4 linked regions of the Homo sapiens genome follow. The protein of the gene in region 3 interacts with the protein of the main gene of each other region in a biochemical or structural test. Each region holds a gene or a part of one and is shown on either strand. Other genes may lie near its edges.

The links.
Region 1: the proteins of CITED4 (region 3) and TFAP2B form a complex in vitro, tested with the Homo sapiens proteins (one study listed by BioGRID).
Region 2: the proteins of CITED4 (region 3) and TFAP2A form a complex in vitro, tested with the Homo sapiens proteins (one study listed by BioGRID).
Region 4: the proteins of CITED4 (region 3) and TFAP2C form a complex in vitro, tested with the Homo sapiens proteins (one study listed by BioGRID).

Annotation. Positions count from the first base shown.
Region 1 is NC_000006.12:50,814,453-50,821,876, forward strand, and holds the start of TFAP2B (transcription factor AP-2-beta), read left to right. Parts: upstream 1-4,439; coding exon 4,440-4,520; exon of another isoform or gene 4,521-4,574; intron 4,575-6,979; coding exon of another isoform or gene 6,980-7,025; intron 7,026-7,424.
Region 2 is NC_000006.12:10,398,062-10,405,089, forward strand, and holds part of TFAP2A (transcription factor AP-2-alpha), read right to left. Parts: exon of another isoform or gene 6,679-7,028; coding exon 6,447-6,678; exon of another isoform or gene 6,441-6,446; intron 4,550-6,440; coding exon 4,431-4,549; intron 2,529-4,430; coding exon 2,387-2,528; intron 645-2,386; coding exon 356-644; 3' UTR 1-355.
Region 3 is NC_000001.11:40,860,531-40,866,264, forward strand, and holds CITED4 (cbp/p300-interacting transactivator 4), read right to left. Parts: upstream 1,834-5,734; 5' UTR 1,598-1,833; coding exon 1,043-1,597; 3' UTR 524-1,042; downstream 1-523. UniProt on the Homo sapiens protein: Acts as a transcriptional coactivator for TFAP2/AP-2. Enhances estrogen-dependent transactivation mediated by estrogen receptors. May function as an inhibitor of transactivation by HIF1A by disrupting HIF1A interaction with CREBBP.
Region 4 is NC_000020.11:56,632,300-56,639,327, reverse strand, and holds the end of TFAP2C (transcription factor AP-2 gamma), read right to left. Parts: intron 5,976-7,028; coding exon 5,759-5,975; intron 5,179-5,758; coding exon 5,060-5,178; intron 2,719-5,059; coding exon 2,574-2,718; intron 1,601-2,573; coding exon 1,315-1,600; 3' UTR 45-1,314; downstream 1-44. UniProt on the Homo sapiens protein: Sequence-specific DNA-binding transcription factor that interacts with cellular enhancer elements to regulate transcription of selected genes, and which plays a key role in early embryonic development.

The sequences.
Region 1 (7,424 bases), on a different chromosome or scaffold from region 3:
CTCCTGTGCAAACATTAGTCCCTCCTATTTTGTTTCCTCATACCAAGTCACTGAAACCTATATGGTATCAAAGCCCTAGAAATCTGAAGGCAGGTGCTTAAATTGTAGTTTCAGACATTCAACAGTATTTTGTTTCCAAATTGATGATAAAAACACCTACTGAATCTTCCCCAAAAATATAATCATGAGAAAGCTTAAGACAGAAACATGGTAGGAAAATTAGGAGCCAGACTGCAACAGTAAAAAATGGAGCTGTCATGTTTTATCATTTTTTAACTTATCAAGATCTGTTATATGGATGTCGTGTCTTATTATTCAACTCAGCAGACAATAATGCTTCTGATGGGTAAGAGGTGGGGCAATATCTGAGGATGCTGAAGTAAGACAGTTTTTCCTTCCTCTCTTCTTTCCTTTGCCTACTTATAAATCCAGGACTATAAAAAATAACCCTGGACATACTCAATGATCCAAAAATACTGTCTTCTTAACTTCAGAAGGAAAGAAGTAAGACAGCATCATGAGACTGTGGGCAAAGCGTTGAGTACACAGTCTGAAGACCTATATTGGGTTTCCCACCTCCACTTTCTAACCAGGAGTTTATTGCAAATCCCTGGTTTTTAGAAGCCTCCACTTTCCTGACCCCCCGCTAAGTGTTTTGAGACAATGATGATAAGTTAAATTGTTTATGAAGCAATAGTACCACATATATTTACCCACAGATACTATTTTAATAAATTTTCACAATCATTTCCATTTTGTAGTTCAGTGCACTGAACCTCAGGCTATTAAATAGCCTGCCCCACCGCCTAGAATGAGAAAGGCCAGGGTGCAAACTTGGCACAATAATTCTAATTCTTGACTTTTCTAATTTTATTATTTTTGTGCGTTGGGTAGATGGAAAGGGGAAACCCAGGGAGACTGTGTAATGGAAAAAGAAAAGGTGGTACAGTGGGCATCTGCAAAGGAAGATAGTTCATGGAGTGTTAACCCACAGGTGCAAAGGTGAGGGCTAGTGGAAGGAAGGAAGTCAAATAAATTTAGATAATTCATAATTAGATTTTTAGAAGAAAGATGAAAGAAGACATGAAAGTGCTCCTAGTTGACCTTGATTTAATAATGATATTTTTCTGTACATTTTTTAAAAAACAGTCCTGAACATACTTCGAAAATCACCAGCAGAGGGCTTCATGCTGGGTGCATTTGCTTTTAATTATAGACTCCGACATTTACTGAATAATATTCCCTCTATATGAGGCTGAAAAAAAAAGAGGGTATGAATAATTCTTTTCTTTGCTGTTTTAAACTGAAATAAATGCAAATGAAAGAGGAAAGTACGAGTGTTAACTATCTGGGATGTCTCAAGTGCGGTTCCACCTAGGAGAGCATGTGCGTAACCTGAAAAAGAAATATGGACATAAGGCAAGATAAAATAACGAGGAAAATGCATATTTTACTCGTTTAATTTCCTTCAAATCCAGAGTTTGTTTTGCCTTTGTGTTTCCATTTACTGAGTTCTTGCGGGAATAGTTTCCCTACGTCATGTGATTGAGTGATAACGCGAAAGGTAATAGAAAGTAAAAGCAAGAGAGGTAGGTTCAAGTTAGGAAAAATTTTCTCCGTAGCGGCTGAGCTTTTATTGTGCGTTTCTTCGGGCGTTTGAACTTTTTAGATGCTGGAACGATCGTTTCTAAAATTAGTAAATATCATAAGAAGTGAACTTTAAAAATGTTCCTCTCAATACCAGGTTTTCAAGAACGGAAAGAAACCTTTGCCGAAAAAGAAATCAAGGAGACTTGCAGGGTTTGCGTCTATAAAATTCCGACAGAGGGCGCTGTTGCCCGTTCAATGACAGGGAACGGTCCGTGGGAACGGTTTACCTTGCAATGTCTAGGACTTTTCGAATAACGCCCACGTTAAAAAAAATAACTAGGATTTTAATTATGGTTATGTATTTTGAAGGTATTTCTCTATATATATGTGTATATTTTTAGGTTTATGCTTCATTCTTAATAAAACCAGATTTGTTATTTTTCAGGTTTCCTAAAGAACTTAAATTTTAACCAAATATCTCAAGATATTTCCACTTTAAAAAATACCTAATACTAGCATAAAATAAAATTACACATAAAAAGTTTGAAATTATTCATATATAAGGCTATAAAATAGTTATACTAACACAATACCTTATATTATTTTAATTTATGTGTAAAATTATCTCTTGCAGGTTTTGTTTTGTTAAATCTCAGAGTTTATTTATTTTAGACTAGGCAATAATATACCAAAAAGATATTAAAAGGTGTTAAAAGCATTTAGAGAAAAAAAGTGAGATTTTTCCAAATGCATTTTATTTGGGTTGTAATGATCTTTAGGTAATAACAATGACAGAATTATTGATTTGAAAGGGAGAAAACAATTATTTCCATTAATTAAATGTCTTGTGCCTGGAGAATCTGAACTTCCAAGTCTATAATATTTATCTTTCAGATTATTGATCTGGCACTGATTTTAGTTCTAGAAGTCAGGGGGTGTGGAACCCGTTTCAAGTCCCACCACACAATAAGATTAAGAAAAATCCCTTCTCATCTCCTAACTAGCTCTGGAAGCAAAGAAGAAAATCTTTGCTGATGCTCCTAGTGAAAAATCTGTATAGATTGTGTATGATTTAAGGTTAACATTTAAAGGGGAAGAAAGGAATGGAGAGAGAAAGGAAGGAACGAAAAGGGAAATGAAGGAAAGAAAAAAGGAAAACAAAAAGGAGGAAGAGGAGAAAAGGAAAGACGAAACATAAAAAATTCAACCGGAAATAAGGGGTTTATTTCTGAAGTTCCTTCTGAAGCACCTTCTTTGTGTTCTTTTCCTTTGACTTATCTTTAAAAATTAAATTAAAAATCTGCAGAATTGTTTATTCTGCAGTTCATGAAGCTTCTCCTTGGTTTTGATTGAATCGACGTCCAACAAGGTTGTCCGGAGCCCTGTACTCAAACAGCGTCCATCCCTGTTCGCGCAGAGCTGCACACAGCAGTCCTGGATTTAAAGACAATCACCCTTTGCAGATTCACTCTCACCAGGCTTAATAACTTCCACCCCAAATTGCCCCATCCCTCCTCGGTCCCTCCTGGCATTTCTTTTCTGTCCCAGGCGCAGAGATCCTCTTCTGGGCGTCTGTTCCGGCTATGAGAAGCTCTCCGCACCCTGAAAGGGAGTAGAAAAACAGAGGGGATGGGAAAGGGGGAACAGGGGAACAGATGAGTATTCATTTCATGATAAAATTCAGAATCCCTGCGCCTTAAATGGTGCCCATTTTCTAAGTCTGGTTAATATTGTTCTTGTTGCTGATGATGTTTTCCTTTTTAAAAACTATATGAATCATCTTATTAAGAAAAATTATACAAAAAAAAGAAGAAACTCCACATGCACTAAAATATTTTTCACTATCTCTTTGAAGACATTCTGCTTAAACCTTTTCAAAGATTCGGGTGGCCCTTTCTTGACTCTCCATGATTAAAACCACTTACAAGTCATACACAACAGATGCAAATATAAAATGTCCTTGGCCTCTGCAAAAAAGGCTCAAAATTAACCTTGTCTGAACGTGTGCGTACGTTGCTTCCAACATCTGAAAAAAACTTGATAAAATGGAGACTCCAGCCAAGAGGAATGGTGCATGGAATCCGTTGAAAATGCATACAAACAACACCTAAAATAACAAGCAGCACAAACTGAGGTGTATTTAAGTTTCCAAAGGTTTTAGGTAAAATGACCAGAAAATATTAGAAATGGTCATCAACGGTGGCTAGCTTTTTTGTTCTATGGTGACAGAGATAAAGTTAAAAAAAAAAAAGTTGTGTAGCCATCAACACAGAGATAGTCCTTAAAATCCCCCATATCCAGCCTTTCAAAATACTCTCTTCCGGAACATACATGAATAGGAGGGAGCTTTTGTGTTTAAAAATCTTGGTAAGTGTCCCCCTTTAAAATCTACATAGAAAATAGGGGACTGATGGCCCCTGGTTTCTCATTATGAATTGCAAAGACTTCAGTTAGTGGCTACAATGATGTGTCATTTTCGATATAGAAGTTATAAAATGTATATATTATATTAATCACCCTGAACAACTCTTTGTTAAATGCACATTTGGAGTCTGCAGACTGTGTGACCCAGAGGTGCTTATATAACTATATGTGGGTGTCTGGGTGTAAATACGGGTTTATGATTTTTATAGTATATATGTCTGTGGGTTGCATCTAACTCCTGTGTGTGCAATAATGTTTTTTCTCTTTGCTGAGGCTTACTTGTCCAGCCTATTGTTTGAGACAACAGATATAAGTTGCGATGGGAGAGGAGCGTCGGATTTGGTGTGTATCCCCCATTTCCAATTATAGATGGATCATTACAGACAGCGGAGTCCTGAGAAGCCAGACATCTGCTCCTCACATGAATGCACTCACCTCCTAGAGACCAGGCTGCCATCATGCTCTGGAAGCTTGTGGAGAATGTCAAGTACGAAGATATCTATGAGGTGAGTCGACACCCCCAGATGCACCTTAGAGCTTTGCAGATAGAGAATTTGAGCTTCTTGATACCCCAAATGATATATATTTTTAAGCTATTTACTCGTAGATTTCCGGTCGGTTTTCTCAGCTTTTTTTAACTTTTAGAAAAGCTGGCTAGGGAAGACTTCGCTGCTCTGAAAAGGGACTTTAAGGCTGAAATCTGACAACTTTAATTTAGGAATGTTTTTATTTATTTTATTTTTCTTTCCCTTTTCCTCGCCTCCCCCCACCCCACCCCACCCTTTTAAGCTCTGATGGGGAATGTGGTGCTACTGAATGTGGGCACGCTCTCAGAGAAAATCGAGATTCTGATAAAGTCAGGGGCTTTTCTCGTTTTAAGTGTGGAAGAGAATTGGGTTTTCAAGCCTCATTTGTAACAGACTCGGGCTTTTAATTTTTATTTTCAATAAAATTTCTGAAATTGATAACAAATGGTTCCAAGTAGAGGACAGAGAATTAGCGGGAAAGAAGTAGATGGCTGGAGATATGGATGGATAGAGCAAAATAGAAGTCGTAGCAGTTTATTAGTTTCTGTTTTCTTGTGTTTTGCTTCCTTGAGGGTCACTGCGTCCGAACAGAAATCGCAGCCGCCTCCTGTGTGGGCATCTTTCACGGAAATTTCTGCCCACGTTCAATGCGTACGGGTCTCTAGCACTGAGGCTAGCTCAACTCTTCGGGGCAGGAGAAGTTGCGCCCAGCCAGGAGGACGCCAGCCGCCTCCGGGGCCCGGACCGCGCTCGCCAAAGCCCTTTTCCGGCTCGGGCGAGGGCTGACGCGGCCAGACGGCTCCGCTACTCGCGGGCGAGGCGGACTAGGCGGACGAGGCGGCCGAGGCGGGCGAGGTGGGAGAGGCGGGCGAGGTGGGAGAGGCGGCCGAGGCGGGCGAGGCGCGGGGCGCGCGGCGGGCCAGGCTGGGGACCGGGAAGCCCGCGGAGCCTCGCTTTTAAGCGGAATGGTCTGGGACAGCCCCAGGTGGTTGCCAGGGGAAGGGAGGAAGGGAAGGTTCTGCTGAGACGTCGAGGTTGGAAATAAAAACTTCGGAAAGGCGAAGCGGATTTAGAAAAGGAGGGAAGTCGAGGCGGGCGAAGCGGGCCATGGAGATTGCTAAGAGGAAAAGTTGGAGAGAAAAGGAAGGAAGAGAAGCAGACTCCCGGGTGGCGGGCGCGGGCCGCTAGGTCAGACGAAAGGTGGAGGGATGCAGAGGCTCCCCAAAGAGCCGAGAAAGACACGCGACCCCTCCGGATCGGGACAGCTCCTGAAAGCCCGGCGCAGAGCCGCCTCGAAGATCCTAAGAGTGGGCGACTCACAGGCGCGGCCGGCAAGCTCCTGGGGGACTCGGGCTCGGACGAGCGCCCACAGGCAGCGCCTGGCGCCCACACCTCCTGCCCCCCCCCGAATCCTAATGTTGGGGTGTGTGTATGTGTGGAGGTATGTAGGAGAGAGGAGGAGGAGATAAGAGAGGAGAGGGAGAAAAGCAGGAGAGAGCGCGAGAGAGCAGAGAGGAGAGAGATTGGTCTTGTTGCTGAATGATGCTTGGGGTTTTCCTTTTCTCTTTGTGGTTGTGTATCGACTGTAACGAAGAGCCGCGCCTACGCGCCTGGTGGGGATTGTTTCGGTTCGGCCTCCTTTTCTTTCCTTAACAGGCGGGATAATGGTAAAGTCCAAGGCGCTAGAACTGTCCTAAAGAATATTAGCGCCCAAAGTGGGCATGACATTAGCAAGCACGGGGCCATGGTGAAAACAGCTCAAGCTATATGCATGCAGAGGCATTTCAGTGGGTTCTAAAAAGTAACCAGGGTAACATTCGTTCTTTACAGAAAGTAAAGTAGCTAAATGGAAAAGGAAGGAGGGAGAGAAGAAAGGAGGGAGGGAGAGAGGAAGAGGGAGGGGTGGAGTGGAAGGGAGGGAAGAGAGAAGAGAAAAGAGGGGAGGGAGAGAGAGAAAGAGAAATAAACAGGGAGAGAGAGGGAATATTACAGGTGGTCCTATCTGCCTAAATTTTCTGCTCAAAAAACAGAATCCGCAGCTCGGTGGAAGGAGCCTATTTAAGTCTGGACTAAGGTTGAACTTTAACAGAAATGGCAGTCAGGCCAGTTGAACGGGTTCCTGAAACATCCAAAAAGGTTTTCTGTTGCCCCTGGCTTTGCCTGGAAAGGATAAGTTTAGTGTATTTGAAGATTGATGGCGTATGTTTTAAATTGAGGTAAAAATCGCAAACTATGTGAGCACTAAACAGGAAAAGGCTGCACAGGAATGAAAAGCCTCCATCTCGCTTCTGTCCTTTAACAAATGAGCATAATCTTCCACATTTAGCAAAAGTCTGCAAAAGTCACTGTAAATAACCAGGCCCACCAATTTGCCTTTCTCTCGCCTCCAAATGATGAAGCAACCCTTTTTATTTTGTTTTTGTAATCCTCACACAAAGCACCCAAGGCGACCAAGTCCTCCGGATTAGGGAAGTCTCTCTCCAGGTAGGAGGACACCTCCATTCTATACAACCTCCCAGCACTGTTCTCCCTCACTGCCTTATCCAAAGGAGCAGGGGCTGCTTTACTCGTGTCCCCGGCACAGTTAATTGAAGTTCTGCCTCTTTCCTGCTAAACTTTTTCCCCAGTCTGCCTTTGCCAGCCCCCTCGTCTGATTACATCTAGTAATTCTCCACTGAATGAACGTCATTTACAATAGTAGGGGAGCTCTGCGCTCGCTGCTGCTTCACGCTCCATTTGTCCTCTATTCTCCCTTTAAAGTACTCGTGTAATATTAATAGTCATGAATATCAATTATTATGAGGCGGTGTAGGCAAGCGGAGGGAGGAAGGGGCGGCCGAGCAGTCTGAGCCCAGCTTCGGGTGAAAGAGGACTGCATCTGGA
Region 2 (7,028 bases), on a different chromosome or scaffold from region 3:
TTGTTGATTTGTTGTTTTGTTTAAAAAAAAAAGGGTTCACAAACTTGGCAGAACTTTTCTCTGCTGGCTTCACGGCCTGTTCTGTTCTCTTAGGCTCCACATGAGGGCACAGGGGTGTGGGAGCGGGTGGGGAGGTCGAGGCGGGTGCAGAGTCGGAGAGGCTGCCCCACTGACAGTCGAGAGGGCAGTCCCGGAGACTCGGGGGGACCCAAGGGCAGCGGCGGCGGCGGCGGCGGCAGCAGCAGCAGCAGTAGCAGCAGCAGGAAGGGTTGCTGATCCCGGAGCTGTCACCCGCCGGAGGGTGGGCGCGCGGGGGGCTGGTGAGGCGTGGGAGGGGCGGGGCGGGAGGAGAGCCTCACTTTCTGTGCTTCTCCTCTTTGTCACTGCTTTTGGCGTTGTTGTCCGTGTGGCTGTTGGGGTTGTTGCTGAGGTACATTTTGTCCATGGCCTTGAGGGCCTCGGTGAGATAGTTCTGCAGGGCCGTGACCGCGGCACACACCGCGGGGCTGCCGAAGCCGTGGGAGATGAGGTTGAAGTGGGTCAAGCAGCTCTGGATGCCGGGCTCCAGGATGGGGTTGGGCCGTGAGTTCCCCAGGGGAGATCGGTCCTGAGCCAGCAGGTCGGTGAACTCTTTGCATATCTGTCTGCAGCACAAGTGGAGCAGAGAGAGAGACATAAGGCTCCACTATGGGCAGCACTAGCAGCAAAGAGAAAACCTCCCTCCCTGCAGCTACCTCTGCCGGGATCCAGCCGGTACCTGACATGACCCAAGACCCCAGAGACAGACAGTGTGGCCACATGTTGGGAGATCCAGCCACCTTTCAGTGACCACTAAACCATCTCTCTTTACTTCCTACCTTCACAAATGACTCTCTCTCTCTTTCCTCTCAGATATGGTAAACTTTTATTCCCACCTTTCTCCCTCACACAAAACATCCTAGACATAGGAAACCATTTCACACATTGGAAGAGAAAGAAAGGAGTCACGCAGACCGGAAGTCAGAAACAGTAGCATCTTGCGAACATTATGCTGCAGCCATCAGCCTTCCTATTCAAAATGTCATAAAGACCCTCTTCCCTGCTCCTCTAGAGAGACCTCAGCAGCAGTTTGTAGAATGAAGTCCACACTCGTTCACCTTCAAATCAAATTCAGGTCAATGTGGACAGAGAGACAAAACTTTACTTGGGATTATTTTGCCTTTAAAAAACAAGAATAACAAAAAAACAAAACGGGCCCACACAAGCCCTGTTACTTGGAGATAATTCAAAGTAGTGTTTGGGAAGAAGAAACAGACATTTCGATTTCCCATTCCTCCTCTTTCCCCACATAGCTCAAAATAAAAATACTGCAGGGAAATTGTGGAGATGGGTGTGCTTACGAAGCCTGGGGAAAGAGAAAGTTGAAATTTCGCAGAGGTAGATGAGGCCTGCACTCAGGAAGCTCTGTCTCTGAATCTGGGAAGCAAGGGCTAGCTGGGGCCTTCCAGGGGCAGCAGCAGCCTGGCCTGGGGGGCTGGGGAGGGGGATGAATGAGGAGCCTGGGCTGGCTCCCTTCTCCAAGGCCAGCTGATGTCCCCAGGCCAGAAACAGGGTCCCACCCAAGGCCTCAGCTTCTGCCCTCTGCTTCCATGCCCTCCTGTGACATCAACTTTGATAATTAAGGGCTTCCAAACAAGCCTTTTAATTTCCAGAAAACACATCAAAACAGTCATTTTCTTTTCACACATCACCTGGAGAAGCCTATTCAGCCCAGGCACCGATGGGAATATAACTTGGGCCATTTTGAAATCTATTTGACTTCTCGCCTGTGGGCTAAAACTTATGTGGGGTGTGGGTCTCTCTCTCTCTCTCTCTCTCTCTGTCTGTGTGTGTGTGTGTGTGTGTCACTTTCGAGAAGGGGTTGTGAAAGGAAGGTAAGAAATGGAATAACAGATTAGGGTTGAAACTAGGACAGCTTCTGGCTTGCACATTTTGCAGGCCACTGTTTAATCTTTGCCCTTGGAGAACATATTGATAGGATACAAAAACTGATATAGGTAAGCCTGTTACCCCTTTGAGGATTTGATTCTGGTCTTTCTGAAACAACATAGTCACAAATCCACCCTTAACTTCAGTCAAACCCCTCCTACAACCCACTCCCATACACACTCATTAAAAAAAAAAAAAAATGAGTAAATGGGACAGATGAGAGGAAAAAGATGGGAGCGCCCAAGAATCCCACCTGTATTTCTTCCTTAACATAGACTATATATAAGATGGTGTTATAACTGCAACAAAGCTGATTAACACAAAAGGAAAACAAGGGAGAAGGAAGAGCAAAAACGATTTTTGTTTCTCTTTCTCTTGACAACGAGACACAGAGACCCCATAGAGGTAAATGCCTTACTTTGTAGCCAGGAGCATGTTTTTTCTTGTCACTTGCTCATTGGGATCGGAATGTTGTCGGTTGAGAAATTCAGCTACTGCTTTGGCAGGAAATTCGGTTTCGCACACGTACCCAAAGTCCCTGGCTAGGTGGACAGCTTCTCCTGGCAAGAGGGGAGAGGAGGGAGCCAGTGCGAGAGAATGAAGAGTGGGGATCCTAACTTCCTCCCCACTCCCAACTCCCTAATTCCCTTCACCCCAGATGTTGCAGGAAACACAAACTACTTGTTTTCTCATTTCAGGCATTTTATTTCCTTCTCTGTAGGATCTGGTGGATGCATTTATCAGGAAAAATGACCACTTCTCCTAGAGGGCCAAGAAGACTTGAAAATGAAAATCTCATCCACCAACCTCCAGTCCCATCCCCCACCCTAAATGACACTTCTCCAAATTCTCTTTTAAAATGCTTCTTGTATTCCAACTTCACACCTATCAACACATTCATAAATGATATTCATAATTACTCTTTGAGCTTTTCTGCAAGGGAACAACTGAGGGGTTACATTTTAACTTGATCACATAAATTATCTGTTCATCCAAACCGATTAACCAAGAGGATTTGAGGGTCACTCCACTGAGTCTGTCTGTGTTGTTGATTTTCGAATCTTTGGTTTTAATTTCCTGAACCAGTTGGTTTTTACTGCAGGGCTTCCTGCCATTAGCTCCAGCTCCGGAAGAACGCATGCGCCAATTAGAGCATCAAAGCCCTCTCCGCAGAGCTTGTTTCCATAAAATGGAGCGGATCACAAACAATAACAGTTCTCCAGAAACTGCCTCCCTGCTACAGAACTCAACCCCCAAACCCAGACGAACTCCACGCTATACCTTAAGCCACCACTACCATTTTCTTGGCTTATAATTCTTTTGGAGTATGAATAGTGGGTTCTCTATGGACTGTTATGATTTTTAATGTAATGGTACTGTAGTTGAGTTTCTGGCACTGAACAATTGCTGATTTTCTAAACAGTTATATTACTATCAATCTCTGACATCATCAACAAAGAGAATTCATAGGATTCCTCCTCAAATATATGGTTTTAAACATTTTAAAAAATAATTTACAAAGCCAGAACTTAAATTCAATTGTAATATATCTCCTCAAATACAAGATGTGAATGAAATAAAATGACTTCTTTAAATATATATACATGCTAGTTTTAAAATCTGTCTGGTAATTAAAGTAACTTTTTTTTCCCTGTTAGCATGAGATATTTACAATAGGACACAAAGAAAAACACAGGAGAGCTATAGATTCATTCCAGTACACCAAAACCTAGGCCAATCTTGTATCAGAAAAACTTAATCTAGAGGCAGCAGGAATATGAGTGGCTTCCGGTGGCAGTTATCTAGAGCAGGGAGTGAGGATAAGGGTTGGCTTTTTGTTTTGAGGCATTTGGAAGGGTGTATGTATGTTTAAAGCTACCAGGAGAAACTTTTTGCAATGCTTATATTTATCTTTCCATATCCACATCATCCAGAATCAAAAATTGCTCACTTTTCTTCTTCTCCAAGAGAAAAGCACAATTAAAGAGATAAGGGAGCATATGTTTGGAAAACAAAGACCTGAAAGGGCACATAACCCTGAGCTTTCAGGATGGTCTTAAATCAGGACGCAGGTCAAAGATTCCCAAATTAATTCAGGAAGTAATGGTCACGCATTTCTCAAACGCAGATGTCAGAATAACTTAAGTTATTTACTGCTGAGCCCTTTAAAGGAGACAAACTTGGAGAATGTGCAGTTCTTAAACTTGTGCGTTGTTTAGCTCAGAATTAGGCTGGGGAGGTGTAACTTTATGGTAGAGGAAAAGAAGGAAGAAGGATGGAGGTATAGGAGTACATGCAAATGTTTCTTTTTGCCATGAAATAATTCCATTCACATCTGGCTATATTCTCTGCAAAGATGAAACTGCCCAACTGACATAAAATACGACCAAACATCTGGCCACTAAATATTATCCATTTTCCAAGAAGGAAGTTCCTTCTAGTTAGCAAGTGGATTCGCTTACCCTCTACTAGTGATGTGAGCAGGGTAACGTTGGCAGCTTTACGTCTCCCTGCAGGCAGATTTAATCCTATTTTGTCCAGTTTTTCTCTTAAAGATCTTCCTCCATTTTTAGACTTCGCCCTGTTTCACAAATATATGCGAGAAAGGGATTTAGAAAACATTGGGTTGCTCTGCACCACATTAAAATCATTTTGAAAGCTTCCTAAAATGTGCTTTCAAAAACTGAGAAGCTTGGCCCCAAGACATTTAAAGGAGGGAAACCTAGGAATAGTACAGAAGTTCATAGGAGATAAACGCCTGTTAAACTGTAAAGCACCCCCTACGTTCAGTTATTATTGCAACTCTTGTGGCAGGTTGGAAGGTTTTGATTTCCCAACTCTCTAAAGAAGAACCACAAACAAACACAGCCCCATCTCTAGGGTTTGAGGTATTGAGTTCAACTGATTCCTGTATATTTTCTCTGCTGTTACAATCACACCAATCCCAATGGGGTCTTTAAAACTGTCTTTGCAAGATATGCTGTTAGGTTGTTCCGAGTAACCAAAGTTATCATCACTCTCACGTTTCTTGCTCTGGCTCTAGCCCCAAAGGGAAATTCGTTTCGCCAACTGTTTACGTGCCATGTCACCAGCCTAACTGGAAATGTCAAAAGCTGATATCAGCCCTAAAAGTTTCACTGATTTCAGAGACAATGGAGGCAGTTCTAAACAGATGTCTAAATAGAATCCCATAATCAGAAAGTGGTTAAGATAAATTGTTTAAATAAAACAGCAAATTAATTAATTTCAGATTTTATTCCCTACTCAAGTGCTCTTTAATTGTGTGGATTAGATTATACTCCCCTAGGTAAACAGTCTCCAATATTGGGGATGGGGGAAGGGAAGGAAAAAGCAGAGGGCAAGGAAAAGATCTGTGTCAGTGAAAGACTACAAAGGGAAAGCAAAATGACTGTGCAGGAGGAAGAAAAGACTAGAATGGTTGATGTTAAACCCTTCCAAAAAATGATCTTTATAGGCTTTGTGCGGGATATAGCCACTAGAAAGGAACTGTGGGTCTATCAACACATAAGTAAATGAATAACAGTCAAAACAATGAAGTTCTCAGTATTATTAAAGAAGAGAAGAAACATTATCCGGGTAAGTTCAACACAAGCCCCACAACTCACAACGTGCAGTGGAATCCTAGGGGTAGGAAGCCCACAGCAGGGAGAAAACTGCCCTAAGGGAAGGTGCTTTACCTTGCTGACCCTTATAAAATCTTATCTACTAAATGAATCACTCAAACCTCGCAGGGGTGAGGTAAGAATCCCTGGCTATGTATGTAACAGATGCATTCCTTGGTAGTGACTACACACAATGCACGTAAACATGCTCGCACGCAGCCTGGCACACATCAGGGCCTCAGTAAATTGGGAATCATCATCATATGCAAACGCCTATAGTATGGGGGTCTGGAGATGACAGCGACCGGAAAGCATGGCGTGCGGACTCAAGAGGACAACCATTCTCTTCCTTTAGTTAAAAGCCATTCTATTAAAACCCTATACAAGGCACGACCGGTTACCCTCGGAGACCCTACTCAGAGAGGTAAGGCAAAGCGAGGAGCCTGAGAGGAACTTTTCCTGGGCTTGCAAGGTGTGCGCGAAGAGGGAAAAGGTGGCTGTACGGCGCCCCGCGGCTGCAGTGGCCGGGATTGAGCCCGCGGCGGAGCGAGCTGCGCTTGCGCGAGGAGGAGGGCGGAGCGGAGGACTCCGCGAGCGCGCGGCAGCGAACGAAGCGCGCACCAGAACTCGCTCGCGGGAAAGCAGCGGAGAGCGCAGGCGCGCGCCGCATCGCCCGCTCCCCCGCCCCCAGATCCCGCCCACTTGGCTCTACGCTCTTCTCCCCGCCCCCTTTCCTTTCCCGCGTAGGGAGGGCCGCGGCGCGAGGCCTGTTTGCGTCGCCGCCACCGCCCCGGCGCAAGCGCAGTGGTTCCCCCGGCCGCGGGGCGGGGCGGGCGGGGCCGTGCCGGGCCTCACCTCCGGAGCACTCCGCCCAGCAGCGACGCGTTGAGACACTCGGGTGGTGAGAGCCGCCGCTGCACTTCCGCCACCGTGACCTTGTACTTCGAGGTGGAGCTGAGGAGCGAGAGGCGACCCGGAACTGAACAGAAGACTTCGTTGGGGTTCACCACGCCGCCGAAGAGGTTGTCCTTGTTAATAGGGATGGCGGAGACGGCATTGCTGTTGGACTTGGACAGGGACACGGGGCCTGCGGAGACAGAGGGGAGGCCGCGTGTTGGGCGTCGTGGATCACCCCCAAATCCTGCCCGACCCCGGCCCTCATCCCGGCCAGGGCCGGATCCCAGGCTTTGGGCCACAGTCCCCGCTTTTCCGTCCGGCTCTGAAATTCTGTGGCTCTGCTACTTCCCTTCCTCGGGCTCGAGCCCTTCCCTACCTCACCCGGCGGCCGGGAGGCGGCCCTGCCCTCCCCCAGCCAGCCTGGCCTGCGTTTCTGCCTTGACCCTTTCCCCTTCGCCGTCAAGGGTGCTCTCTAGAGATGGGTGGTGAAATTGGTGACCCCTGAGGCGCTGAGCATCCGAGCGGAGTGGGCCCCAGATG
Region 3 (5,734 bases):
AACATGCACCAGGTTGACACAGGGCCTGGAATAAAATCAGCACCAATTTGTAGAATAATAATTGCCGTCACTTACTGAGAACTGCCCAGGTATTTGGCACTGTGCTAAAGGCAGCGTAACTACCTGAGGAGACGGGGACCATCTCCCTCTGGGAAACCGCCTCAAAAATCAGAACGGATGGTGTCTTGGGCAAAGGAGAGAGTCAGGGTCCAAAGCTAGGCTGTCTGAACTCGGTGCCACCCAGCTCCTCTCTGGCAGAGCACCAAGCTCCCCCCACCCTACCCTAGGAGCTGGGAAGCCCAGTGGGTTACCCCACCACCCAGTGGCAGCCTCTGCCCTCCAGGTTGTGACATAACAATTGCACAACCCACGAGATATTTTTGAAAGAAACTGTCGGTTTCCTCTCCTGGGCACTGCTGGGGACTGTGGCCCCCATGCCATCCAGTGTCTTCAGCAACCTTGGGACTTTGGAAGCTAAATATAGTCAGGGCTCGGGGTGATAAGGAAATGAAAACGGCAAGACTGTAAAGTGACCCAGTTTTATTTTGGTTTTGGAGGCCAGACAGGGCATTGCTCCACGGGTTCGGGCTGTACAACCTTCCCCTCCTTGAGGTGGGAGGCCCAGCAACCACAGGGCCCAGGCAGCGGGGTGGGAGGCTCAGGAGATGGTGGCTCTGGGGACCCGATCCCGAGGAGAGAGGGGGCAGCAGGCAGAGGCCTGCAATGGCTCAGATTGGGGGAAGAGGGCGGCGAGGGGGAGAGGACACGATCCAAGAACCAGAGTCCGAAAGCTGAAGCTGGTCCGGTCTCTTTCACTTTACGGCCGAGGCTGGGGTCAGAGAAGTGAAGCCAAACTGTCCTCCCGCAGGAGGCAAGGCCTGGAGGGACGCCAGGGTCCCAGTCCGGTGCCGGGCCCTGCGCACACAGCCGCCGCCTCCACCCTCGCGGAGGGCGCGCGCGGGGCCCAGTCGCTGGGTGCAGGGTCCGGCGGGCAGTCGGGCCCTTTCTCCTCTCCGGCACGCCGGGCGGGCGCCGGCCGCCCTCAGCAGCTCACGGAGCCGGCGGGCGGCGCGGACCCCAAGTCCGAGAAGCAGTCGAACTCGCTCTGGCCCAGGAAGAGCTCGGGCAGCTCGCGCACGCGGTGCAGCCCGAGCTCCAGCTCCAGCGACGTCAGCGCCTCCTCGTCGATGAGTTCGGCGTCCATGCCGCCCAGGGCGTGCGCGGGCGGCGGCGGGGCTGCGGCGCTTGGCGCCGGCTGCGGGCCCGGGGGGCCTCCCGGAGCGTTGGGGGGCGCGGCCGCGCGGCCGGGGTACGGCGTCGCCACAGGCTGCAGGTGCGCGATGCCCGCGGCCGGCGGAGGCACGGCCGGAAAGGGCTGGAAGGAGGACGGCGGCCCGAAGGCCCCGTACGCCAGGGCCCCGGGTTGGCGGGGCGGCGGCGGCCCCAGCGGAGCCCCCCGCGGCCTCAGCCCACTGTCCAGGCCCGGGCCCGCGTACGGCGGCAGAGTCCGGAGCGCATGAGGGCCATGGGCGGCCGCGGCGGACGGCGGCCTCTGCACCAGGCGGTAGCCCTCGGCGAGCATCAGGTGGTCGGCCATGGCGGCAGGCCGGCTGCCTGCGGGGACAGCGCGCGGTGGTCAGCGCCGGCTCCCCCGGCCCGGGCCAGCGGCTGCTCTGCGGCGGGAGACCCGGGCACCGTGCGGTCCCTGCAGCTCGGCCGGGCGGAGCAAAACCAAACCCGACTGGTGCCCCGGCCCAGCCCACTACTGCGCACCTTGCGGCCGCAGCCTGGGGTCACAAAGGCCCGCAACCTGTAGTGCTCCGAAACCTCCGCGTCGCGTAGCTGGGCTCGGCGTATTCTTATACCCAGAGGCGGGGCTTCCCCGCCCTCGGACGCTCATTGGCTGGGCGAGACGCTTCTGGGCGGGCCGCGCACGCCTGCATCTAGGTCTTGGCCCCGCCCCTCCCACTGGAACCCCGCCCCTTGGGACTCCGGCCACGCCCCAGGCTCTGAGCACCGCCCTGGGGCGGGGTATTTGGCACTTTCGGAGGGATTCGGTCTGGCCCTCAGGGCTTCGGAATCGGACTTGGCTGGGGTAGAGCTTGAACTGACCAGAAGGTGGGGTGGGAGGGCCAGAGTTTTAGGCCCCCCAAGAGCTGCAGGATGTCAGGCCTACGCAACCTTTTAACTTTCCAGGTAGAGACCGAGGCTCAGTGGCGGAAGAGGCTTCCTGGAAATACACAGCAAAGCCTTGATCAAAGTGAGACTGCACAGCTACACAGGGCGCATGCACCTTAGCGGTGCAGGGTCCCCGCAGGAGGTCAGCTGTCCATTCCCATAACCCCCAGGAGAGCCTGTTGCTCCCCCTCTAGTTCCCACTGCACCTTGTCTGTTGAAGCATGTACTTAGTTGTTATTAATTTATGGGCACGTCTCCTGAAGGACTTGTTCATCTTCTTCTTCTCAGCACTTGGCCCAGAGCCTGGCCCAGAGCAGGCTTTTAGTAAAAGCTGAGTGAATGAACTAATGATGGAATGAATTGCAACTCTCAGCTGAGCCTCAGTTTCTTCATCTGTAAAAGGTAAAGAACAGCAGCACTGACCCTTTGTGAGGGGTAAGTGAGGGCATGTGTGCACAGTGCCTAGCACAGTGCCTGGTATGTGGTAGATGCTCAAAAGTGTCCCTTAGATGAAAGAAAGGCTATTTAAGTTCTTTTTTTTTTTTTTTTTGAGACGGAGTCTCGCTCTTTCGCCCAGGCTGGACTGCAGTGGCGCTGTCTTGGCTCACTGCAAGCTCCGCCTCCCGGGTTCACGCCATTCTCCTGCCTCAGTCTCCCGAGTAGCTGGGACTACAGGCGCCCGCTACCACGCCCGGCTAATTTTTTTTGTATTTTTAGTAGAGACGGGGTTTCACCGTGTTAGCCAGGATGGTCTCGATCTGCTGACCTCGTGATCCGCCCGCCTCGGCCTCCCAAAGTGCTGGAATTACAGGCGTGAGCCACCGCGCCCGGCCAAGGCTATTTAAGTTCTGTCCCAAAGGGCCTTCTCTTGATAACAGCAATAATAACTTGGACTTTTAAAGTGCTTTACATTCTACAAGTATTTTGTTGGGGGCAGGGCATGGATTATCAGCCCCATTTCAGTGATAAGGAGAAGCACACAAAGAGAAAGTGGCTGTCCTGAGGTCACAGGCAGCCAGAGTTAGCGTGTGAATGCCATGTGTTTTCCAAGTCCTTAGGGCAACTGGAGTCTTTCCTGTGGCCAGGAGACAGCCTCCCAGAACCTTACCCTCCACGCATTTGACACTCTCTCTCCCTTCTCTGACCTTCCCCCGACCTGTGGCATCCTTGGGACTTCCTGGAACTTGGGTTTATCCAGTTGATGTAGAGGGGAGAGCCCTAGAGTGAGAATTCAGGGGCCCAAGGTCTTTTCTTCCCTCTTTCTTCTTATTTTTTTAAATAGAGAAGGGAGCGGGGGGGAGGGGCGGCGTGGGGGAGTGAGGAGGGCCTCAGGCTTATCTCGAATCCCTGGCCTCAAGTGACCCTCTCACCTCAGGCTTCCAAAGTGCTAGGATTACAGGCATGAGCCACTGCGCCCAGCCAGAGGCCCAAGTTCTAATCATATCTCTGCCACCCACAGGTGTGTGACCTCCACCACCAACCAGCTGTGACTGTTGAGTGTTGAGCGGGGAGTATTACTTGATTCCCCAGGGCCTCAGCTTTCTGCTCTGTGAAAGGGAGACGGTGATCTTGCCTGGTCAGCCTGAGAGCTTGTGGGTAGTGATAAATGACCATGGGTGTGGTCACATTTTTGCAAAGTGTAAAAAGCTACACCCTGGAATTTATTCTCCTGAATCTTTCTCTACAGGTAAGGCTTCTCACAGAAATTCTTAAACCTGGCCATGCCTCACACTTATCTGGAGATGTGGGGGGTAAGGGGTGGGTGAGTGGGGGCTTTGATAAAGACGGAAAATCTGCCCAATTTGGGAGATGAAAGTGAGAGGATTGCTTGAGCCCAGGAGCTCAAGACCAGCCTGGGAAACATAGTGAGACCGTGTCTCTACAAAAAGTTAAATAATTAGTTGGGCATAGTGGCATGTATCTGTAGTCTGAGCTACCCAGGAGGCTCAGGTGGGAGGATTAGCTGAGCCCTGGAGGTGGAGGCTGCAGTGAGCCATGATGGCACCACTGCACTCCAGCCTGGGCGACAGAGATCTTGTCTCAAAAAAATCAACAAGCAGGCCAGGTGAGTGGCTCACGCTTGTAATCCCAGCACTTTGGGAGGCCGAGGTAAGTAGATCCCTTGAGCTCAGGAGTTTGAGACCCCTGTTTCTGAAAAAATAAAAAATTAACTTGGCATGGTGGTGTGCACTTGTAGTCCTTGCTACTTGGGAGGTTGAGGTGGGAGGATCACTTGAACCTGGGAAGTTGAGGCTACAGTGAGCTATGATCACACCACTGCACTCCAGCCCGGGTGATGTAGGGAGACCCTCTCTCAAAAAACAAAAAAAAACAAACAAAACAAACAAAAAATTATTCTGCCATCATTGGTCTTAGGTCACCAGCATTTGGGAGCCATTGCACCACCAGATGATTTTCCATTTAAAAAAAAATGTGTGTGTAACTAATGTTTAAGAAGTTCTTTAGGCCGGGCATGGTGGCTCACACCTGTAATCCCAGCACTTTGGGAGGCCAAGGTAGGCAGATCACCTGATATAGGAGTTTGAGACCAGCCTGGCCAACATGGTGAAACCCTGTCTCGACTAAAAATACAAAAATTAGCTGGGTGTGGTAGCACACGCCTGTAATCTCAGCTACTCAAGAGGCTGAGGCAGGAGAATTGCTTGAACCCAGGAGGCGGAGGTTGCAGTGAGCCTAGATAGCGCCACTGCACTCCAGCCCCAGCGACAGAGTGAGACTCCATCTCAAAAAAAAAAAAAAAAAAAGAGAAAAGACAAAAAAAAAAAAGGAAAAATAGAGTAGGAAGGAGGTTGGGGTGCAGGGGAGGAGGGGAGCAAGTTGTAGTATTAAGTGGGGTATCTGGGGCAAAAGCGGGCTGGGCGTGGTGGCTTACGCCTGTAATCCCAGCACTTTGGGAGGCTGAGGTGGGTAGGTCACTTGAGGTCAGGAATTTGATATCAGCCTGGCCAACATGGTGAAACCCCGTCTCTACAAAAAGTACAAAAATTAGCTGGGTGTGGTGGCACGCACCTGTAGTCCCAGCTACTCAGGAGGCTGAGGCAGGAGAATCGCCAGAACCCAGGAGGCAGAGGTTGCAGTGAGCCGAGATGGTGCCACTGCACTCCAGCCTGGGCAACAAAGCAAGACTCTATCTTTAAAAGAAGAAAAAAAAAAAAAGCCGTATCAGCAGAGAGAACGCTGGAGCAGCACTTCTAAAACTGTAGCAACAAGTCCTGAAGTGTCAGCCTTACCAGGGACCCCATTAGAAATGCACATTCTAGGACCGTACACCAGACTCAAATCAGTTTCTGAATCAGAAACTGGGCTGGAATTCAGCATCTGTGTTTTAATAAGCCCTGCGGGTGATTCTGATTAAGGACCTCTGAGTTAGGGGGAAGCCTTAGGCAAGGGTGAGCCGCAGCCCTAAGGGAGTGTGGACAGAGTGCAGTGGGGCTAGGAGGGTAGCAGGGAGGCCAACTGCATTGAGGCCTTGCAAGGACTTTGGCAGAGGAGTGACATGATCTGGCCTTTGTTCTGAAAGTGTTGCTATGGTCAG
Region 4 (7,028 bases), on a different chromosome or scaffold from region 3:
AAAGACTTTAAAACAAAAGCAAAAACAAAAACCTATAGCCAGACTTTCAGATTCTAACAAGAATACTTTTATTATACACGTATCATACACACAACAATTATTTGGGGAACATTTACAGGCAGAGAGTTCAATTCCAAATCTCCATTTCACCCACACACACTGTACTGCACACTCACCTTAGGGTTCAGCCCAACAGGAACGAGACAAAGTTATTGCTTTCTGAACAGAGAGTTTCAATTAAATAGAATCTTCCAAGCCAAGAACAGAGCCCAGCATCCTCTTAATTCTTAATACCCTGTATATATATGAATAAAACCTTATGATGTGTTATAGATTACCCCATCACCATTAAAAGTTAATATTAAAATTGGATCCCATGTCTCAAAAAAGTCGTAAGAAGTGCACCAGTATTTACAGACCCCATTAAATTACGCATAAATAAAATCTGTACACTCAACGCACTGTTTCTTAAAATACAGAACCTCCACGGGGACTTGGGGGTGACAAGCAGCAACAAATTGCTTCGTGCCTACCCTTTTCAAGTTTACTCGAAACATCTGAAATAAATATGCAAATAAAGCTTCAGTACCTTAAAGGAACATGTCATTTCAAAGAGTCTCCCATTTGAAGAGTTAACTTTCAAAGTTAAAAAAAAAAAAAAAAAAAAAGGAGAAAAAAATCAATCAGCAGGCTTCGTTTCTACAAGTTTCCTAAAACCAGAAGGCCCCCGTTTGAACACGGGGTTTAGAGTGTGTCAGATACCACTTATTAACTAGTTGCTAAGCAGATAGAACCTTTGCCTCCTACCAGAGGACTTGATCTCTGAAGAAGCTAGATACACACTTTTCTTTTTTTCAAGGTAAATATTTAGCGGACACAAAAACCAACCATTACCTTAACACTGAAAAAAAAGGTATTGTTGATCTGTTGATCTAGGGCACATCAATTTGACATTTCAATGGCTAAGTGTGTGGGTCTGTTGGCCCAGGGAATGTATTTAAAAGATTCTAAAACTTATAGCACCACTTTCAGAGAAGGAAAGAATGGGGTTCAAAAAAAAAAAGCTTAATGAATAAAGAGCCAGTACTTGTCACCTTCTGATAATAGGTCCAAAGTTAGGAGATAGCTCAGCGCTAGAGAAACAACTAAGAAGTCCAGGGGCGGGTGATGCAGAACCAGTGAAGGCTCTTTAAATAGTAAGGTAGGTAACAAACTCTTCCCCCAGGCCAGGAGGGGTTCCCAGTCTGTGCGGTGGAGAAGGATTTTTGCAGTCCTGTTCCTTCCCTACTCTCCTAACCTTTCTTCGTTCCAATTTTATTTCCTGTGTTTCTCCATTTTCTCCAGGGTTTTGTTAGAATCAGCTGGACTCTGGTCTCCAGGGTTCATGTAGGATTTGTCTATGACAATCAGGGCTTCTTTGATGTAGTTCTGCAGGGCAGACACCGCGGCACAGATGGCCTGGCTGCCAAACCCGTGGGTAATCAGGCTGAAATGAGACAAGCAGTTCTGTATGTTCGTCTCCAAGACTGGGGCGAGCCTGCTGGTCCCATGGGGTGTCCGGTCTTGGCTGAGAAGTTCTGTGAATTCTTTACACAGTTGCCTGTGAAGACAGTCAGTTGACTCGATGAGTTCCATCTAGCTCCTTACAGGTCAAGAGCACAGAACCAACTACACTGAGGCTGGCGCCCGGGAGGCAAGCACAACTGCTTCAACCCGAGGAAGGAGAATTTAATACTAATAGCCAACTGCTGCGCTTAGCAACTATTCTGCGCCAGGCTCTGAGTTAAGCTGTTTTAAAGCACTATCTTATTTAATCCTCACTGCAATTAGAAAAGACAACAGGATTAACTTAACCCCAGCTAACTGGCCAAGGTCACCAGGACTGGTAAAAGTAATGGGGCCTGGATTCCAACCCATGAGCTTAAGGGACAGTTTACCTTGGTACAAGTTGGTTCCAATAAACAAATTCCGTGAGGAACCGGGAGAAGGAAGCATCCCCCTGAAATTCTGACTCCTGACACAGCCTGGTTCACTGCGCTCTCTTTTACCCCATTTCCTGGCTCGACTAGTTCTGCTTCATTTACCATCATTTTCAAATCAACTTACTGTTGGTTTCTATGAGAAAACCCACAGCTGCATTAAGTCGTTTTGGAGACAGTTAATTTGCCCACAAATCCACCCTGATCTTTACATTTGAAAGACAAAAGTCTTGCTATCAGGAGGTAGAAGGCACACAATCTCTCTTTACTGGTTGTGACAAAACAAATCGGGTTTTCAACACATTTTTGTAAGATATGCTAACACAATAATGAAAGGGCAGCTCAACTACTTTGGGTTGAATAACTAAGCAGCTCAAAAATACTCATGGCTGAGTCATGCACTCTTCTAAATCATACAAAAAGTTAATGTATTTGACTTTGTAAAAGAAGCTCCCTTGCCATTTTCTTTTGCTCCACCCTAATTTATTTCAAGAATATTTCTTTGTTGAGCCATCGGGACTGTGGAGGGGGAATCTTCTCAACCTCAAGGTCTAGAGCATTGAGTCATCATCAAATTCAAGTTCAGATACTTACTGGGCCGCCAATAGCATGTTCTTCCTAGCTGCCATCTCATTTCGTCCTCCAAGATGAGGTCTGGTTAAATATTCTGCCACTGGTTTACTAGGAAATTCGGCTTCACAGACATAGGCAAAGTCCCTAGCCAAATGAACAGCTTCACCTAGAATAATCAGCAACAGCTTTTAGGATGGCTGTGGTCACTGAGGCCAAACTGCCCTTTTCCTCTCTCTTTTTTTTTTTTTTTGACACGGAGTCTCGCTCTGTTGCCCAGGCTGGAGTGCAGTGGCCCGATCTCTGCTCACTGCAACCTCCACCTCCGGAATTCAAGCAATTCTCGTGCCTCAGCCCCTGAATAGCTGGGATTACAGACATGCACCACCATACCCAGCTAATTTTTGTATTTTTAGTAGATACAGGGTTTTGCCACATTGGCCAGCTGGTCTTGAGCTCCTGGTCTCAACCAATGGCTCATGCCAGGGATTATAGACATGAGCCACAGCACCCAGCCCCCATTTTCTCTCTTTCTAGTAGTATTCATTGTCTACCAGTCATACGTTGCATGCAAGAACGAAATCATATACAGGGCAGACAACTCAGCTGGTAGGTAGAACTTTCTAGGGATTCTCAGTAGGTCCTCCACCCCAGGAATAGAGGGTGGAGATCACACAATGTGAGCAGAAAAGACCCTGAAACTTCTAACTGCACAATCAAGTCAGCCCTCTGTATCCGTGGGTTCAGAATCTGTATTCATCCAAACTCAGATTGAAAAGATTCGGGGGGGAAATAATGAATGGTTGTGTCTGTACTGAACACACACAGACTTTTGCCATTATTCCCTGAGCAATACAATGTAACAACTATTTACATAGCATTTACATAGTATTAGGTATTATAAGTAAGTGATGCAGAGATGATTTAAACTATACGGAAGGATGTGTGTAGGTTATATACAAATATAACATTTTGAACATCCTCAGGTTTTGGTATGGGACCTGGAACCAGTGCCCCATGGATACTGAGATGAGTAAACTTGAAAAATGTTTACCAGTCCTCTGCTCAACAGATAATCAAACATACCCATGTTTTCTCTTTATATTAAGTAGTATCATTTTGGGGAAGTAGGAAAATTTAAGGGCTATAAACATGTTTGACAAAAGCAAACTAGTCACTTCTCTATAAAATGGTGACATCTGACAGCTTACTTTTTTTTTAATAGTGCCTTTTTACTGAAGGGGCAGATCTCTAGAATGTTTCTTTTAAAAAAGATGGGAGGGATGTTTCTCCTAAAAACCAACTTGGAGCACCCTTTTCCCTGTCCAAGTCAGTGGAAGAGCTAAGGGAGGCAACCAAGAGAGTTTCTCCCACCCAAGAGGTACCTTCCCTGGCTCCAGGGTGCAGGACTGGTGAGCTTTGCAAAAACCCAGATGGTGGAGGGGCCCCCTGGGTTGACTGAAGCAGCCTTGGAGAGCCATTGTTCTGGAGCACACTTTCTTATTCAATCACCCTGCCTGGCTAGCAAGAAACCCCAGCAGAACCGCCGATTCTACAGGCAGGACAGCTGTTCTCAGACAGGCAGCTCCTTTCTCCTTGCCCTGACCTCCAAAGGCACTCGTAAAAGGTAAAGCAGGGACTCTGCCAAGTCTCTTTGAGCACCACGTCACGCCATCAGAGCAAGGAAAGAAAGTCTTCAAAAGAGGGTACTGCCACGGGGAGCCCGTTTCTCCTTGGCTTCCCCTGCCCATAGTGAGAGCCCTAAGCCTCTCTCAGCGTCCAACTCTTCCCGGGAGCAGTAACAACATGCTTTGTTTTGTTTTTAAAAAATTATTTTACTTTCCCTTCAGCTCCTTTTAAAGGTTGTGTTGCATTCTTGGCTACTGTCCAGGTTGGGGTAAAGGGGCCCCCCATTCAAGAAACTGAAATGCTATGTCCTACTATCTTAGCACTGGCAAGAGGAACTTGTGCGTGGGCCAGGGGTTCGATTAGTTTTTTTCTTTGGATGGGAGGGAAGAATAGAATTGTGAATCGGGCCAGTCGTATTGTATACAAGAGGTTCTCTTCACTGACCACAATCCCCAGCTACAAAATAACCCACAGCTACAAAAAACAGAAGCAGTACTTCTGCTCACCAGTAAGTAACCAGCTTTTACTCAAGGTGTACCAAATGATCAGCTGTTATCTTCCAAAAAAACTGGTTCATTTAACAGGAAATGCCGACACCCCTAGAGTGTGATTTCTTAGGTTAGGAAAACCAGTTTCTTTCCAACATTGATTCTCTGGGGGAATACAGAAGAGCCTACCTGAGCAACCAGATACTTAAATGTTAACTTATTCGATAAAATTAACTGTGATTCATTCCAATAAACTTAGAGAACAATTCCAATTGCTTTCATCTCTACTTGCAACCAAGTTTTAAGAGTTGTTTTCCAGTTTTTCTGCAATAAGTATTAAAGACACAGGCACAAATTAAAAACATCACGAACCAAAAACAAAACCCCACTGACCTTCTACTAAGGATGTCAGGAGAGTCACATGAGCGGCTTTCCGCCTCCCGGCCGGAAGATTCAACCCAATCTTGTCCAACTTCTCCCGCAAGGACCGGCCTCCATTTTTCGATTTGGCTCTAAGAAAAAGAAAAATTGACTCTGGCTACTCTCAAAAACAAAAACACATACACACGCACACTTTAAAAATTCTAAACTCCTAAAGTGCTGCTGTCAAAGCTGAAACCCATCAAAGACTATCTACATCACGTGAACCATAATGAAAAGTGATAGCAGGGTCCTCTTTCAATTAGTCCCCGTAAGATACAAAATCAATCTTTCCTAGCATCCAACTCTGCATCACCGAATATTTCAAATTGTATGGGAGCAGACAAATTTTCACTTGTGAAACTACAACGGCCCCACAAAAACTCCCTGGGGAACAAACCCAGGGTGCTCCCCCCACCTCCCCTCAATACAGATGCTATCACTTCATACATGGGATCAAATTCTAACCAAGTGAGAATTTGTGAGCGTCGTTTTAGCACTTCCTCCCACATTTGGCACTTTCTAAAGGAGAAGAAATGTACTAAAACTCTAACCCGATTAGAATTCAGTGTTAGGCATAAAGTCACATAAATGTTAAAAATACCTCCTGGGCCTCTGATACACTCACCTTCAACTACCCAACCACTATGCCTAGAATTGTGCCCCAAGTACCTTCTGAGAACACCTCCCAGTAACGAGGCATTTAAGCATTCAGGTGGGGACAGTCGCCTCTGTACTTCAGCCACTGTCACTTTGTATTTAGACGTAGAGCTGAGGAGCGACAATCTTCCAGGGACTGAGCAGAAGACCTCAGTGGGGTTCATTACGGCCCCCACCAGCTCCTTCTGACAGGGGAGGTTCAGAGGGTTCTTGGTCATGGAAATGGGACCTGTGAATGAAGGTCAGAGCTGGCAGTCACAAGAGCTCTCTCTGAGCAAAAGAGACCTTTTCAAAACCAATAACCAAAGCTGAAAGTGATCTTTAGACAAGCATCATTGCACACCCCACGATCAACTGCAGGCTGACTTTATTTAAAAAAAAAAAATAATAAGAGTCTCACTCTGTGGCCCAGGCTGGAGTGCAGTGGTGTGATCTCTGCTCACTGCAGCCTCAGCTTGCGGGCTCAAGTAATTCTCCAGCAGGTGCCCACCACTACATCCAGCTAATTTTTTGTATTTTTAGTAGAGATGGAGTTTCACCATGTTAGCCAGGCTGGTCTCAAACTCCTGACCTCAAGTGATCTGCCCACCTTGGCCTCCCAAAGTGCTGGGATTAGAGGTGTCAGCCACTGCACCTGGCCATGGCTGACTTTTTAAAAAAGCCCCCTACTTCAGAGACAAATCTAATCTGAAATTCACAAGTTAACACCTTGGGAAGTTAATTAGTGAAGATCCAAAGCTTGGAGGGTTTCTTTTTTTTTTTTTCCTAGCAGCTGCTGAAAACTATTTAATTAGAACATTTGTTTTCAGAAGACTGCTTCAATACTAAATAAACGGTGAGTTTTTTCCCCTCAAGAACAACCAAAATCATAGGACACATTAAGATTCTTTCCAAAATTTTTCAGTGCAGTTGATCACAGTAAATTTAATCATCCAAACTAATACGTTCTAAGTTTACTGAAAATTTGTAGTCTTTTCTGAGTTTTTCTTTAAAATCCATTTTTCCTCCATCCTCAATCCATTTAAGCAGTTCAAGTAACAGGCCAAAACTACCTTCAATTTAGGCCTACTCTATTTCCCAAAACAGTCAAAATGGTAATCCTGGTAATCCTGTCAGTTAAGTAACTTAATTTCATAAACCACTCACTCACCAAGTAATCCAATTTTCCAAATCCCCTCCTCCCCATCCTGCAAAACTCTCCCTCTGACAGATCATTCCAAGCTCTGTTCCTTTTACAGGTATTCATTTGGTAGGCCAAATTGCTTCAAAACTTTTCTTGCAG